2 separate regions of the Homo sapiens genome follow, and region 2 is linked to region 1. A link means that fine-mapping ties the variant in region 1 to the expression of a gene that starts in the linked region. Tissue or cell type: whole blood. Region 1 holds a variant in brackets; the other region holds the start of a gene. All regions are shown on one strand. Distances are between the middles of the regions.

Evidence for each region. PIP is the estimated chance that this variant, and not a neighbour inherited with it, causes the effect.
Region 2: it holds the start of PLA2G6, and the variant in region 1 is fine-mapped to the expression of PLA2G6 in whole blood (INTERVAL, PIP 0.91).

Annotation. Positions count from the first base shown.
Region 1 is chr22:38,128,805-38,136,904 of GRCh38, forward strand. PLA2G6 (phospholipase A2 group VI) reads right to left here. Exons shown (of 17, transcript NM_003560.4): 6 at 6,184-6,280; 7 at 4,027-4,209; 8 at 650-758. Among named protein-coding and RNA genes, the nearest start is that of BAIAP2L2, 22 kb to the left of the region's middle. The variant T/G (reference allele first, on the strand shown) is at 4,689.
Region 2 is chr22:38,177,500-38,185,586 of GRCh38, forward strand. It overlaps PLA2G6 (phospholipase A2 group VI), which reads right to left and starts at 4,331. Exons shown (of 17, transcript NM_003560.4): 1 at 4,165-4,331. RefSeq lists enhancers at 2,734-2,903, 3,184-3,253, 3,884-4,333, 4,283-4,577, 4,494-4,603 and 1 more and a cis regulatory region at 7,411.

The sequences.
Region 1 (8,100 bases):
GGGGGCACCTACTCCATTTGATGGATGGGATTGCTGAAAAGGAGGTCATAGATGCGGTGCATGCAGACACACACGTGTGCACTGGCACACACACACTGCTGCCATCAGGTACCTGCCCACAGTGACCCCCACAGCTGCTGAAACCCTCCAGAGCGGGCTCCAGGCCTCTGGTGAGGAGGATCTGCTCTGTCCAGCTCTGAAGCTAAGGCTCACTGTGCGAGCGTGCAGCACATGGCCATGCACTCTGCCCACACAGGCATGCCCAGAGCTCGTGCAGTGTAGTGCATGCACCCTTGGTCATTCTAGCCAGTGGTTCCATCAGTGAATTCCCCAACGGTGGGGAAAGAAGGCTGCTGCTGGCTCTCCTGTCCCCACCCCTGCTGGGAATCTTAGCTCCCTGAGGTGGGGGGCGCTGCACGGGAGAGGATGCTGGTATAGCAAGCCCCGTGGTGGGCCTGCATCTACTGCTCAGGGCCCTTGTGCTTGGGTAAGGAAGCCCCCTCTCTGAGTACGAGGTGCTCCTGGCAGCTCTGAGCAGGGCGGGTCAGCACAGGATGCTGGCACCTGATGCCTGGGACTTCCCTCCTCCTCGGTCCCTGTATCCACCCAACCCTCACCCCACTCCAGCCCCAGAGTGCAGAGCACATACGTCTGCCGATTTTGGAGGCTAGGAATGTAGGAGTCTCCCCAAAGTCATTCGGGGTGTCCACTTCTGCTCCGAACACGATGAGGGCCTTGATCATCTCCACGTTGTCTTTCTGTTGGAGATGGAGAGAGGATAAGACGTGCAACTGCCGGGGAAGTGAAGAACAAAGGGGCCCCTGGCTGCCAGCCCCAACCTGTCAACTCACCCAGCGGGCCTCTCCTCAGCACGGGGAGACACTGGAACCCTCCTCACCCCCACCCAAGTCAATCTGGTAGTCCAAAGTCTGCCATTTGATGGCTGGGGACCTGACAAACAGGCTTAAAAGCACCCACAGGGGAGGGTGTAAGAACCCAGGCAGAAACTAGAAGTGACTCGCCCCTGCTCTGCCAGCTCCGCCTCCAAAGATGCAGTGCATCTGTGACCCCGACCCAGGAGCCATGGGGACACAGTAGGTCAGCTGCTGATGGCTTTCAGGAGTAGCAAGGAGAGGGTGGGTGAGGGCAGGGAAGGCCATCTTGCCCACCCAGTCCAGGGTGTCATCCCTGAGGGGTAACCGAACACACGTGCCCCTAATGGCAGCCTTCGGGGGAGTGTCCCCACGAAGAACGTCACACATTTCCACACCTGGAGGCCGGGCAGGGGCGCAGAGCATGGCATGGTTTCAGAGGACACACTGGCCACCTGGAACTGTGGGCTCTGGCCTTGTCACCTTCCTCTTCTTGGGACCCGATTTCCCTGCCTAGAGAATGAAGCTGTGGGTCTAGAATGGGGTTTTCCAAACAGTTCTTCACATTCTATTAGGACTTCTATGGCTACAGATATGTGTGTGTTTTCAGCATTAACTGTGATTTTTTGTTGTTGTTACTGTTTTGTTTTGTTTTTTTTGAGACGGAGTCTCACTCTGTCACCCAGGCTGGAGTGCAGTGGCGTGATCTCAGCTCACTGCAACCTCTACCTACCGAGTTCAAGCAATTCTCCTGCCTCAGCCTCCAGAGTAGCTGGTATTACAGGTGCCCACCACTACGCCCAGCTAATTTTTTGTATTTTTAGTAGAGACAGGGTTTCACCATGTTGGCCAGGCTGGTCTTGAACTCCTGACCTCGTGATTCGCCCACCTCGGCCTCCCAAAATGCTGGGATTACAGGCGTGAGCCACCGCGCCCTGCATTGGTTACCTTTTATGGTTGGCACTGGATGGATGGATGGCCATTTATGGTAGTGATGCAACATTTCTCTCAAAATAAATTTAAGTCAGTTTAAAAGTAAGCCAGGCCGGGCACGGTGGCTCACGCTTGTAATCCCAGCAGTTTGGGAGGCTGAGGCAGGTGGAACACCTGAGGTCAGGAGTTCAAGACCAGCCTGACCAACATGGAGAAACCCCGTCTCTACTAAAAATACAAAATTAGCCAGGTGTGGTGGCGCATGAACGTAATCCCAGCTACTCGGGAAGCTGAGGCAGGAGAATCGCTTGAACCCAGGAGGCAGAGGTTGCGGTGAGCCAAGATCGTGCCATTGCACTCCAGCCTGGGCAACAAAAGCGAAACTCTGTCTCAAAATAAATAAATAAAAGTAAGCCAATTTGAAGAGGTGATTAAGTACATAATTGTAAAGGTGGTTGATGAATATGCCAAAAACTGTGAAGATGGGATGAAGATGACCAAAGTCTATCAGCAGTTCTTAAAGTAAGACCTGGGGACCCCTGTGAACACGTGATACCCTTTCAGAGGTCTCACACCCAGCTAATTTTGCATTTTTAGTAGAGATGGGCTTTCGCCATGTTGGCCAGGCTGGTCTCGAACTCCTGGCCTCAGGTGATCTGACCATCTTGGCCTCCCAAAGTGCTGGTGTACACGAGCCACTGCAGCTGGCCAGTTATTTTTTAAGTTTTTTAAAAAATTTTTAATTTTAATTTTTGTGGGTACATAGTAGGCATATATATTTATTATTGTTATTTTTAAATGAATTAATATTTTGAAATTTTCACACTTTAAATTTCTAAAATGGTAAATATAGATAAAGAAAATCCAGATGATTAAAAAATCTTTGTGATCCTCAATAATTTTTCAGAGTATAAAGGGATCAAATAGGCCAAAAAACTTGAGAACTGCTGAGTTAGATCATTCCAAGGGCCCACCCAGTGCTAAAAATGTCCACAGTTTCAAAAATGAAACTATTTATAGTTTCAGCCTTTTGGGCAACAACATCTCTTCCAAGTTTTGACCTTTGGTATAAAACAGGATGTCTCTGAATGTGTCCTGAATCAGCTTTTAGAGTCCCGGGGGTCTCTCATGTTCTGTCACTGAGACTCAGTAAACAGACTTCTGTACATACGGTATTGCTATAGAAAACGTGCACACGGTGGGGCGCGGTGGCTCACGCCTGTAATCCCAGCACTTTGGGGTGCCAAGGCGGGTGGATCATGAGGTCAGGAGTTTGAGACCAGCCTGGCCAACACAGGAGTTCGAGACCAGCCTGGCCAACGTGGTGAAACCCCGTCTCTACTAAAAATACAAAAATTAGCTGGGCATGGTGGCACGTGCCTGCAGTCCCAGCTACTTGGGAGGCTGAGGCAGGAGAATCGCTTGAACCTGGGAGGCGGAGGTTGTGGTGAGCCGAGATCGCGCCACTGCACTCCAGCCTGGGCGACAGTGCGAGACTCCATCTCGAAAAAAAAGAATACATGCACACACATATGTCTGTAACACAGTAACGTCCTCCTCTGCTAGGTTTAATATGTTCATACTCTAGATGTGTAACCAGACAGTAAGGGCTTTGAGGGCAGGAACTGTGTTCTATAATAAACCAACGAATATGCCTGGCACCTGCCACAGGCTGCTGGGCTGCACACTCAGGCTTTGCCTGCCAGGATCTTACAGCCTCCCAGGGAAGATGAGAGCAACACGCGGACCAGTGAAGGGAAGCAGGATGCTCACTCGGGCCAGGTACTGCGTGTGTCACTTAGACATTCTGTAGAGGGTGACCAAGTGTCCACCATAACTTTTCCACAACTCTTCCAGATAAGTATTGACACCACCATTTTCCAGATGAGGAAATCGAGGCTGACAGGTGACATGGCTTGCTCAGGGCCAGTCTATGGCCAGAGCTGTCATTTTTCCCTCTCGTGCCATGCAAGTGCCAAATGGGGGCACAGGTGGAAAAGGTACCACAGCACACAGGAGGTGGTGTTATTTTGGGCTGAGAGGGGGACTTGGAAGGCTTCCTGAGGGAGGAGTCAGGGTCTGAACTGAGCTTTGGGTGGGAAGATGATTTGGAGCAGCTGACGATAGGAGGGAGACAGTGGGGAGGAGGGCTCCAGTCCGGACAGCCCTCCTGCATTCCCACCGGGGCCCCACAGGGCAGGACACGCGGTCCTGGGCTCACCGACATGGCCAGGTGCAGCGGGGTGTTGCCGTGCTCTCCGCGGGCATCCGCGTTGGCCCCGTGGGTCAGCAGCACTATGGCACAGTCGAAGCGGTTGCGCATCACCGCCACGTGCAGGGCCGTGTTCCCCGCGGAGCTGGTGCTGTTCACGTTGCAGCCCCGTTTCAGCAGCATGCGGGCCATCTGCGGGAGACGGTCAGGCTGAGTTAGCACAGGCACTCGGGGAGCTGCCGCACCCCGGGACACGTGGGCACTGCCACTTCTGCTCTGAGAGGCCTACAGGTACTGGGATGTTGGAAAGCGCTAGCAAGAGGATTCCAGGGGCAGGCCCCAGTTCTAGGGGGGCCTAGACTGCCTCCCATCCCATCAGCATCCCAAGACTAGGGACAAAAAGCCAAAGATGTGCTGACTGTTTTAAGAGGCTTCTGGTCCTTTCCTAGTGCCAACAGAACCCACTCTCCTTGCAAAGGCTCCTCTGGGGCCTGTCCTGAAGCACCCCGCTCCCTGCATCCCTCCCTGGAACCCTGCAAAGGTATCACCTCTCACTGGGCCTTGGCAATGCACATCCCTGGCAGAGCCTTGGGAACAGGGAGGGGAGCCTGGCTTTGGAGTCACAGACCTGAGCCCAAAGCCCAGCTTCACTCATCCCAGCTGCCTGCGCT[T/G]GGATGGGTCACTGTAGCCATGTGCACTTCAGGGCTTCTGTGAAGATGGGAATGCAAGTCCCCACCTCACAGCATGTGATGACAATGAGTGACCAAACCTACACGGAAGGGCCTGACTCGGTGTCCGGCTCCTGGAATGCAGAGGTACCCTGAGGCTGGCAGTGCCCTCCCTCCTGGCCCATCACATTGAGAAGTAGGCCATGAACTCTGGGGCATCCCATTCTCTGTCAAGCTGTGCTTCCTGGTGATGAGACCAGAGGCCTCCATCCTCCCAGGAGGACAGAGCTTAGCTTAGGGGAAGAACTCAGAGGAGATGCCCAGCCAGGCTCCCTGTGTGTGCAGCTAGGCCCAGCACCACCACCACCACCATCATCATCCATCATCATCATCATCATCTTGATGGTTAATAATGAGTGTCAACTTGATTGGATTGAAGGATGTAAAGTATTGACCCTGGGTGTGTCTGAGAGGGTGCTGCTAACGGAGATTAACATTTGAGTCAGTAGGGGAAGGCAGACCTACCCTTAATCTGGGTGGGCACCATCTAATCAGCTGCCAGCACGGCCAGAATATAAAGCAGGCAGAAAAAAATGTGAAAAGGCTAGACTGGCTTAGCCTCCCAGCCTACATCTTTCTCCCGTGCTGGATGCTTCCTGCCCTCAAACATCAGACTCCAAGTCCTTCAGCTCTGGGACTTGGACTGGCTTCCTTGCTCCTCAGCTTGCGATGGCCTATTGTGGGACCTTGTGATCGTGTGAGTTAATGCTCCTTAATAAATCCCCCTTTAGGCCAGGCACGGTGGCTCACGCCTATAATCCCAGCACTTTGGGAGGCCAAGGCAGGCAGATCACGAGGTCAGGAGATCGAGACCATCCTGGCTAACACGGTGAAACCTCGTCTCTACTAAAAATACAAAAAAATTAGCCGGGTGTGGTGGCGGGCGCCTGTAGTCCCAGCTACTCAGGAGGCTGAGGCAGGAGAATGGCATGAACCTGGGAGGCAGAGCTTGCAGTGAGCCAAGATTGTGCCACTGCACTCCAGCCTGGGCGACAGAGCGAGACTCCGTCTCAAAAAAAATAAAATAAAAAAATAAACCCCCCTCTCTCTCTATATATATATCTCCTGTTAGTTCTGGCCCTCTAGAGAATCCTGACTAATAATACAATCATCATCACGCCACCTTCTATTTGGGAAGCACTTTACAATTTGTGCCGAGTTTTGTCACACACTGCCTTGCTGACTTCATCACATCGCCAAAGCAGAATTCATGGATGAGGAAACTGAGGCACAGGGCGGATCCCCCCGCCCAGCCAGAGAGCAGCAGAGCCCTGCCAGGATCCCAGCTCTTCATGGACTTCTCTGCCTGCACACCCACTGCAAGGTCAGCCCCCAAGTGCTAGCCTCAGGGTCCTCTCGGGAACCTGCTTCCTGAGGGCCCTGAGGACCTGCGGGGCCCGGCCCCCTGCCCCACCCACCCACCTCAGGATCCACTCACCTCTGCGTTCTTGGCCCAGTGGAGGGGGCTGGCTCCGTAACGGGGGTCTTTGCTGTGGATCTGGCTGCTGTCCATGCTGATGATCATCTCCGCACACCTGGTGAGAGAGGGGCCCCGGTTGGTGAGCAGAAGCTAGGGTCTGCGTGGCGTGGGATGAAGCCAGGACTTGGAGCTTCATCTACTGCTTACAGAGAGCATCACTGCAAACAAAGTTCAGCAAACCCAACCAGCACACTCACCATGGTTAAGGCTGTACTGAGCCCCTCAAGGCACAACTAACCCCCTCCTCCAGGAAGCCTTCCTGATGCTGCCACCAGCAATGATCACCCTCCCTGGTACTGGCTTTAGAGTCAGATGGGCTTGAAGTCAAGCCCCAGCTTCCTCACTGGTGGCCTCCAGAAGCTGAGCAACATGGAGAGAGTGCTGAGAGGAGTGGCTGGGGTGTAAGGAAGACCAGGCATTTCAGAGCCCAGTTCTGTGCCTGGCACACAGCCACCCTCCACCTCCTTACCACACTGTCAGTGAGTCACACAGTGACCTGCATGCTATAGGAAGCAGTATGACAGAGTGGGAAAGAGCACAATTGCTTTCTACTCGGTGCCTGAGGCAAGCAGTGTCCACCAGAGATCTTAGCATCTCCAGCCTCAGAGCAGAGGCCCCGGGTTCACAAGCCTCATTAGGCCCCGCCTGGCCCAAAGAAAGTGCTCCATCATTGTATCATGGGTAGGAATCTCGGTTCACAAGTTCAGCTGTGCAAGGAGAAGACTTTAAAATTTTTCTGGCTGGGCGCGGTGTCTCACGCCTGTAATCCCAACACTTTGGGAGGCTGAGGCAGGCGGATCACCTGAGGTCGGAAGTATCAAAGGACGGAATGCAGGGACTTGAATGGACATTTGCAGACCCATGTACACAGCAGCATTCTTCACAACAGACAAAAGGTGGAAACAACCCAGGCGTCTATCAGTGAAGGACTGAATGGATAAACAAAATAGTATTCTGCCTTAAAAAGAAAGGAAATTCTGATACGTGCTGCAACATGGATGAGCCTTGAAGACATCATGCTAAGTGAAATAAGCCAGGCACAAAAGGACAAACGCTGTATGATTTCACTGATACGAGGTTCTAGAACAGGCAAGTTCTGAGAGACAGAGAGGATATGGGACTTATCGGGGGCTGTGGGGAGGGGAGAATCGGGAGTTATTAATGGTTACAGTTTCTGTTTGAGGTGATAAGAAAAGTTTTAGAAAGGGGTAATGGTTGGACAACATTGTAAATGTGATTAAAACCACCGAATTGTACACTTAAAAGTGGTTAAAATGGGCCGGGTGTGGTGGCTCACGCCTGTAATCCCAGCACTTTGGGAGGCCAAGGTGGGTGGATCACCTGAGGTCGGGAGTTCGAGACCAGCCTGACCAACATGGAGAAACCCTGTCTCTACTAAAAAATACAAAATTAACTGGGCATGGTGGTGCATGCCTGTAATCCCAGCTACTACTCGGGAGGCTGAGGCAGGAGAATCACTTGAACCCGGGAGGTGGAGGTAACGGTAAGCCGAGATCACACCATTGCACTCCAGCCTGAGCAACGAGAGCGAAACTCTGTCTCAAAAACAAAAAACAAAAGTGGTTAAAATGGCAAATTTTATGTTATATATAATCTATCACAGTTGGAAAAAATAAACATAATATATCAGAATCATTGTATACTTTCAATAGGTGGATTGTATGGAATAGGAACTATATCTCAATAAAGCTTTTTTTTTTTTTTTTTTTTAGTGCAATTACTAGGACAGCCCACATGGGTTTAATTCCCAGGTCTGGCACTTACTGACTGCCTGACTTTGAGCAAATTACTTAATCTCTCTAAGCCCTGGTTTCCTCATCTGTTTTTTGTTTGTTTGTTTGAGACAGGATTTCC
Region 2 (8,087 bases), 49 kb after region 1:
TTGCCCAAGCTGGAGTGCAATGGCGTGATCTTGGCTCACTGCAACCTCTGCCTCCCGGGTTCAAGCGATTCTCCTGCCTCAGTCTCCAGACTAGCTGGGATTACAGGCGCGCACCACCACACTCGGCTAATTTTTTGTATTTTTAGTAGAAACGGGGTTTCACCATGTTAACCAGGCTGGTCTTGAACTCCTGACCTCCGGTGATCCGCCCACCTCCACCTCCCAAAGTGCTGGGGTTACAGGCATGAGCCACTGCGCCCGGCCGAATTGCCACATTTAACCCTCCAAACACCTGTAAGAAAAGGTCCAGGTCTCTCCACATTACACAGGAAACTGGGGCACAGGTTACACAGTTTGCCAGGATCTGAACCCAATTAGGTGGAATCCAGAGCATCAGGCTCTTAATCCTCAAACTGCCTTCAGGAGAAAGCTGAAAGAAGGTGGCTGAGCGAGGCTTGCTCAACAGGCTCTTAGATTCCAAAAGCCAAGGCCCTCGTCTCAAAATGCACTGCTGCTCACGTGAGCCAGAGCAAAACGTCCTTTCACAAAAGGAAAAAGCATCTCTTTCATTCACTCCGCTTGGCTGGACCACAGCTGGAAGCAAACTGCCCCGAAACTGTCACTGGAGCTCCCAAGCACATGAGACAGGGGTGACTTTAAGAGATCTTTGGGCTGGTGGCACGGTACAGTGTGGCCCATGTTATGACTCACTCCACAAATATTTACTGAGATGGATTGTGGCAGGCATTGTTCTAACCGCTGAGGATACAATCGTAAACAAAACAGACTGGTCAGGCACGGCAGTTCACTCCTGTAATCCCAGCACTTTAGGAGGCCAAGGAAGGAGGATCACTTAAGCTCAGGACTTTGAGACCAGCCTGGGTAATATAGTGAGACCTCACCTCTACAAAAACTTAACAATTACCCAGGCATGGTATCTCTCATGCCTGTAAGTCCCAGCTACTAAGGTGGCTGAGGTGGGGGGATTGCTTAAGTCTAGCAGGTCGAGGCTGCAGTGAGCTGTGATTGTGCCACTGCAATCCAGCCTGAGCGACAGTGAGACCCTGTCTTAAAACAAAACAAGGCCGGGCGCGGTGGCTCACACCAGTAATCCCAGAACTTTGGGAGGCCGAGGCGGGTGGATCACTTGAGGTCAAGAGTTCAAGACCGGCCTGGCCAACATAGTGAAACCCCATCTCTACCAAAAAATACAAAAATTAGCTGGGTGTGGTGGCGTGCACCTGTAATTCCAGCTTCCTGGGAGACTGAGGTGGGAGAATCACTCAAACCCAGGAGGCGGAGGCTGCAGTGAGCTGAGATCGCACCACTGCGCTCCAGCCTGGGCAACAGAGTGAGACCCTGTCTCAAAACCAAAACAACCAACCAACCAAAAAAAACCCCACAAAATCCCTGACATCCTGGAACTTATATTTTAGACAGAGCTACTAATAATAAAGAAGATAAACAGGTAAATATTTACAAAGGTTTTAGATGACAATTAACTACTGAGGAGAAAAACCAGAGAATGGGGATAGGAAGTGCTGAGGTGGAGAGTGAAATTTTAGATTGGGTGAGGAGAGAAGTCTTCACCAAGAAATTGATCTTAAATAAATACCTGATGGAGAGAGATGAAAGTCATATGAATAGCTAGGCAAAGAGAGCGTGTGCAAAGGCCATGGGGCTGGAACATGTTTAGCGAGTTCCAGGAAAAGCAAGGAAGCCAGTGACATCAGAGAGGCAACAGGGGGCCAGGCATGTGCCATGAGAGGAGAGGCCACTGCAAAGAAACAACATTTTAACAAGATCACTCTGGCTGGGTGTGGGGTAAGAAACAGAGAGGCATCATAGATAATCTCACAGCTTTGACCTGAGCAACTGAATGAACAATACTCCTATGTCCTAAGATGAGAAAGAGAGTGGGAGGGACATGTTTTGGTGAAGAGTGGGGTCAGGGATGGAGGGCAGAACTAACAGGAGCTCAATTCTAAACTCTTAAGTTTGAGGCCTGGCGCGGTGGCTCACACCTGTAATCCCACCACTTTGGGAGGCCAAGGCAGGTGGATCACTTGAGATCAGGAGTTCGAGACCAGCCTGGCCAACACGGTGAAACCCCGCCTCTACAAAAATACAAAAATTAGTTGGGCATGATGGCGCATGCTTGTAATCCCAGCTACTTGGGAGGCTGAGGCAGGAGAATCAGGAGGTGGAGGTTGCAGTGAGCCGAGATCGTGCCATTGCATTCCAGCCTGGGTGACAGAGTGAGACTCTGTCTCAAAAAATAAATAAATCAATAAATAAATACTTCAAGTTTGAAAAGCCTAAGTTTGAGGTGCTGAGTAAGCAACTAGATTTGAGTATGTCATTCCAGGGAAAGGTCTGGACTGGACTGGGGATATAAATTTGTGGGCTGACAGAATAGAGACGGCACTTAAAGAAATAAGACTGGATGAGATCACCATCCGAAAACGAGAAGAGGCATTTAAGACATGACCCTATCAAAATCCACTGTGAAAGACACAGAACATATTCTCCCAGGGAGCCACCCTCTACAAAGTGAAGTTTGTAACACACTCTTCACTACGGCCCCTTACTCCTTGCCTACCTACTTCCCCCAGCACACACACCCAATAGATGTCTGCAGACACACACACACACACACACACACACACACACACACACACACAGAGTATTTAAATTTCTCCTTTCTGTATCTCTTAGTGATGTCATTCTGCTGAGTAAGAGGGAAACTCCCTTTTGGGGAGTCTCTCATGTAACAAGAAAGTAATCCACGGAAGGAACAAGAAGTGTCCTAAACAGTAGCAAACCTTACACATCAGGACAATCACACAGGCTCTGGTGTCAGATTCCAGCTTCAACCTCATCGGTGTGACCTCAAGCAACTCATGCGCCCTCTTTTTCTCATGTGAAGTGAGAATATCATTGGCCACACCAAGGGTAGCCTAGAACATCAGACAGTCCGTAAATATTTGTTAGATAAACGATGACTGAATGAATGGTGAAGAGAACATATACAGAAGAGCCTGACTCACAAGAGGTGATGAACAAACACTGCCAAATGATACACTGAAAGACAAGGGACCTCCTGCTCATCCTTCTCTCCTTGTCTTCTCATTCTAGCCCTTTCCCTTTCCACTCCTTTCAATTCTGCCTATGACCCAACAGTAAAATCATGTATTTGTACAGGGCCATACTGGTTATAAAGCTTTACCTTCTACATTTTCTCATTCAAATTTTGAACCTCATGGCAGACTTACGAGGGCAGGAGGTACAGTTCCCCTGTCACAGATGAGGAAACTGAGACTTGGACAGAAAACAGGTTCCAAACTCCAGGCAGAAACTCTAACAAAAACAATGCATTCAAAAACAATGCATTCAGCCCAAGGGTGCAGCCTCAACGTTGCCAAACCGAACCTGCCTGACATCCTGTTGGGCGGGTAAGAGGCAGGTGAGGGAAAGACCCAGAAGCTAGGGGGAGGTATTCGTTGGGGTCATGTGGGTAGCCCATTAAAAATACGGCCACAGGTCCCCTTGCCCTGTGCCCTCCCTGTCCCACACCCACAGGCTTGCCCCGACCCAGTCCCATGATCACCCTGGTCACATGCTCCCTGTCACCAGCTTCCAAGTCATCTGTGGGAGCAGGAGGTGGACACAGGATTAGGGGTGGGAGACTCTGGGGTGGCCAGGCTGAGGGGAAGGAGGGAGCATGTCGGGGGCAGGTCTGGAGGCACGCGAGAGAGGAAAGGCAAGGAAAAAAAGCAGGGAGGAAAGGCAGGAGAAGCAGGGAGTGAGAAATGAGTAGAGGCACCACGAAAGGTGGAGACGGACGTGAAGTGGGGAATCAAGTGAGCACTTAGAGGAGCACAGGAAGGAAAATTAGGACGGCCAATGGGGCCTAAAGAGGCACTGAGGGTCGGGGAAAGAGAAGAGATGGATTGACTCGGGAAGTTAGGGATACTGAGGGAGACACACGGAGGAGACTGGGGTTCAGGGGAGAAACTCAGGGTCGAAGCTGGGGTCCCTGGGGTCCACAAGTTCGAGATGAGACACGGGCGGTCTCGGGATGGGAATTGGGGACGCAGGGGGATGAAAAGATGGAAGGTGGGGGCACTCAGGGAGTCACATAAGGGTTAATGGAGGACATGCCTCAGAATCGGAGACACGAGGAATATCCAAAGGAGGGTCCGGCGGAGACTTGGGAGTCCGGAGCGCCGAGGAAGTTGGGGAACGGACCCCCAGGCCCCGCCCACCCGCGAGGTCACTCACCTCGGCTTACTCAGCACTTCTACTTCCTCCTACTTCCGCAAACAAACGGGCCTCGGGCCACGTGATGGCCTGACCACCGCTCTCCGCCAATCACTGGTGGCCCTGTCCCAGGCCTCCTCTAGGCTCCGCCCCCGCGCCCGAGGACGGCGGGAGGCGGGGTCCGCCATTTTTTTTAACTGCCCAATGGAAGGGGCTCCCTTAGCCAGGAGGACGAGCTTTCGGCGGGAGCCAATCCTCGGCGGCGAGGCGCGGCCATGTTTGTGCGGGGCAGAAGGTGCCCGGCTTCTTGGCAGTCCTGTTGATGAGGGCCAGGAGTCCTACCCTAGTCCGCCTTCCGCCTCCTAAAGCGACCAGAGCCTGGAGTCTGAAGTTACTGTTAATGATTGCTCGTAAAGATAAAAATAAAGGCAACAGAGGCATAGGGCATAACAAGGAGGAACCTGTTTTGATTTTTGCCAGGTAGCCTCAAGCCAGGGTTGCCAGATGTAGCATATAAAAAATACGGGATGTTAAGTTACATTTGAATTTCAGCTAAACAGCCAATACATTTTTTTCCGATAGAACAGAAATTGATTATAGCTTTTTTATTTTTCACAACTAAGGCCAAATTCCCTAGGGGAATTACCACATGTCCTTTTTTTTTTTTTTTTTGAGACAAGTCTCGCTCTGTCGACCATGCTGGAGTGCAGTGGCACGATCTCGCTCACTGCAACCTCCGCCTCCCGGATTCAAGCGATTCTCCTGCGTCAGCCTCCCGCGTAGCTGAGATTGCAGGCGCCCGCCACTACGCCCAGCTAATTTTTTGTATTTTTAGTAGAGACGGGGTTTCACCATGTTGGCCAGGCTGGTCTCGAACTCCTGACCTCAAGTGATCTGCCCGCCTCAGCCTCCCGAAGTGCTGGGATTACAGGCGTGAGCCACCACGCCCGGCTCCGAAATTTTTAACATAAGTATAATATACTAAGTTTAGTATTGTGTTAAAAATGTGTGCATTGTTGTCTGGCAACACACCCTGAGCCAGTCTCAGGAAATACCTTAGCACTTTCAGTAGGAACTTGGGCAAATGATCTCTGTGAACCTCAGACCCATCATCCAGGAAGTGGGCACAGTAATACAAGATTGTTGTAATATCTAGAAGTAAATTGGTCCCCATTCGTGCACATAGTGGGATTTCAATAAATGGCAGTTGTTAGGGTTAATAATGCCGATAATGAGGTATTTTGCAGAGAAGCCAGGAGACTAGACTTTAGTCACACATCTGCTTCGGACTGAGCAGGTCATGTCCTCTCTTCAGCCCACTGGCTTGGTTGGACCTTTTCTTTCCCTAATAATCACCCAACCCTAGGTCTAGATGAATCTGCCAGACTGCTCTCCATTTACGTGGGAAGTATAGTTGCGGGTGTCATTCTTGTGAAAAGAAGCGTGTAGGCCGGGTGCGGTGGCTCACGCCTATAATCCCAGCAGTTTGGGAGGCTGAGGCGGGTGGATCACTTGAGGTCAGGAGTTTGAGACCAGCCTGACCAACATGGTGAAACCCCATCTCTACTAAAAATACAAATAATTAGCTGGGTGTGCTGGCCATAGTCTGTAGTCCCAGCTGCTCAGGAGGCTGAGGCAGGAGAATTGCTTGAACCCAGGAGGCAGAGGTTGCAGTGAGCCAAGATCATGCCACTGTACTCCAGCCTGGGTGACAGAGCCAGACTCTGTCTCAAAAAAAAAAAAAGTGTGTTTCCTCCTTAGTCCGTCTAAAGATATTAGTGCCTAGACAGGGCAGCCAATGCAACTTGCGCAAGGTTTAGTTAAGAATCTTCACAGGTTAATGAAATTAACCATCTTAACTAATATCTGTACAGAGCTTTACCAGTTACAAAGTGACTTCACTTCCATCATATCCTCGTGTCCCCATTTTACAGGTGAGGAAATTGTTCCTTAAAGTAAGATTTAAAATTTGCTTAAGAGTTTCAGCTTGACTGCGCACAGTGGCTCACGCCTGTAATCCCAACACTTTGGGAGGCCGAGGTGGGCAGATCACTTGAGCTCAGGAGTTCAAGACCAGCTTGTGCAACATGGAGAAACCTCGTCTTTAAAAAAAATACAAAAATTATCCAGGTGTGGTCTTGCATGCCTTTGGTCCCAGCTACTGTGCAGGGGAGGCCGGGGGGTCAAGGATGCAGTGAGCCAAGATCGCCTGCACTCCAGCCTGGGTGACAGAGCGAGACCATGTCTCAAAAAAAAAAAAAAAAAAGTTTCAGCTTGAAGTGGAGAGAAAAGGATAAAGACTCAGAATTCTCAATGAAAATATCTTGCCTCCACACCCCAAACAAGCAAAGTTAGAGCGATGGTTATCAAGGAGCTTGCAAAAGGCCATGCATTCCACGCACTGCCAAGCAATCTTTCCTTCCTGAGAAAACCCACAGGGGCAACATGAGGTGTCCCATTCTTCAACAAACACCCACCCTTGCATTCAGGATTTTGCAAAGCACATTTGGAAATGCAGATACACAGGTGAATCTAAAATGCAGACAAGGGCCAGGTGTGGTGGCTCATGCCTATAATCCCAACACTTTAGGAGGCTGAGGCGGGTGGATTACCTGAGGTCAGGAGTTCGAGACCATTCTGACCAACATGGTGAAACCCCGTCTCTACAAAAAAATACAAAAAAATTAGTCAGGCGTGGTGGCAGGCAACTGTAATCCCAGCTACTGGGGAGGCTGAGGCAGAAAAATCTCTTGAACCCAGGAGGTGGAGGTTGCAGTGAGCTGAGATCACACCAGTGCCCTCCAGCCTAGGCGACAGAGCAAGACCCCATCTCAATAAATAAATAAATAATAAAATGCAGAAAAGGCCAAGAGAGGCTGGATCAATTGCTGGAAACAGTCAAAGATCCACAGAAGACATTCACAAAATAGAATCTCAGTACCTGATGAAGTTAAGTATCCCTTCCCTAGGTATTTCTGGTGGAAACCATTTAATGAGTAGATAAATCAAAAGATGGAATAGAGGGGATTATTAGGTAGCATTGAATGAGCAAGTAAAGGGATGGGGCAAGTAAGCACGAGGGAGTGTGTTCTGTAGTGCTAGCAGATGGAGCTGCTAGCAGTTAAAGTCAAAAGAACTTCTCCTGAGGTGTTGTGCTAGGCTCCTCCCATACATCAGGGAGGGCGTCTGCCCTCTAAGAGCCCAGAGCACAGAGGGTCAGACTAGACTAATCTTTTCCTTCAAGGAGCTAGATGGAAATCTAACTAACATGCTAACAGTGCAATATCACACCTTTTACTTTTTTTTGGAGACAGAGTCTCCCTCTGTCACCCAGGCTGGAGCGCAGTGGCGCGATCTTGGCTCACGGCAACCTCCACCTCCCAGGTTCTAACTGATTCTCCTGCCTCAGCCTCCCGAGTAGCTGGAATTACAGGCGTGCACTACCACGCCTGGCTAATTTTTGTATTTCTAATAGAAACGAGGTTTCACCAAGTTGGCCAGGCTGGTCTCAAACTCCTGACCTCAGGGGATCCACCCGCCTCAGTCTCCCAAAGTGCTGGGATTACAGGTGTGAGCCACCACCCCCAGCCGACTTCTTACTTTTTTATCCTTGCAACAGCCCTGTGATATAGTACTGCCATCCCCACTTTGTAGATGAAGAGAATGAGGTTCCACAAGGGAAAATTATCCCCAGAGTTGCCAATGAGAGGCAGTGCCAGTTGCCAGTGTCAACGAGAGGCAGAACCAGAATCAGCACCTGTCTTGTCTTTTCTCTCTCCAAACTCTAGGAGCACTCATTATGTGCCAGGCAGTGTTCTTGGTGC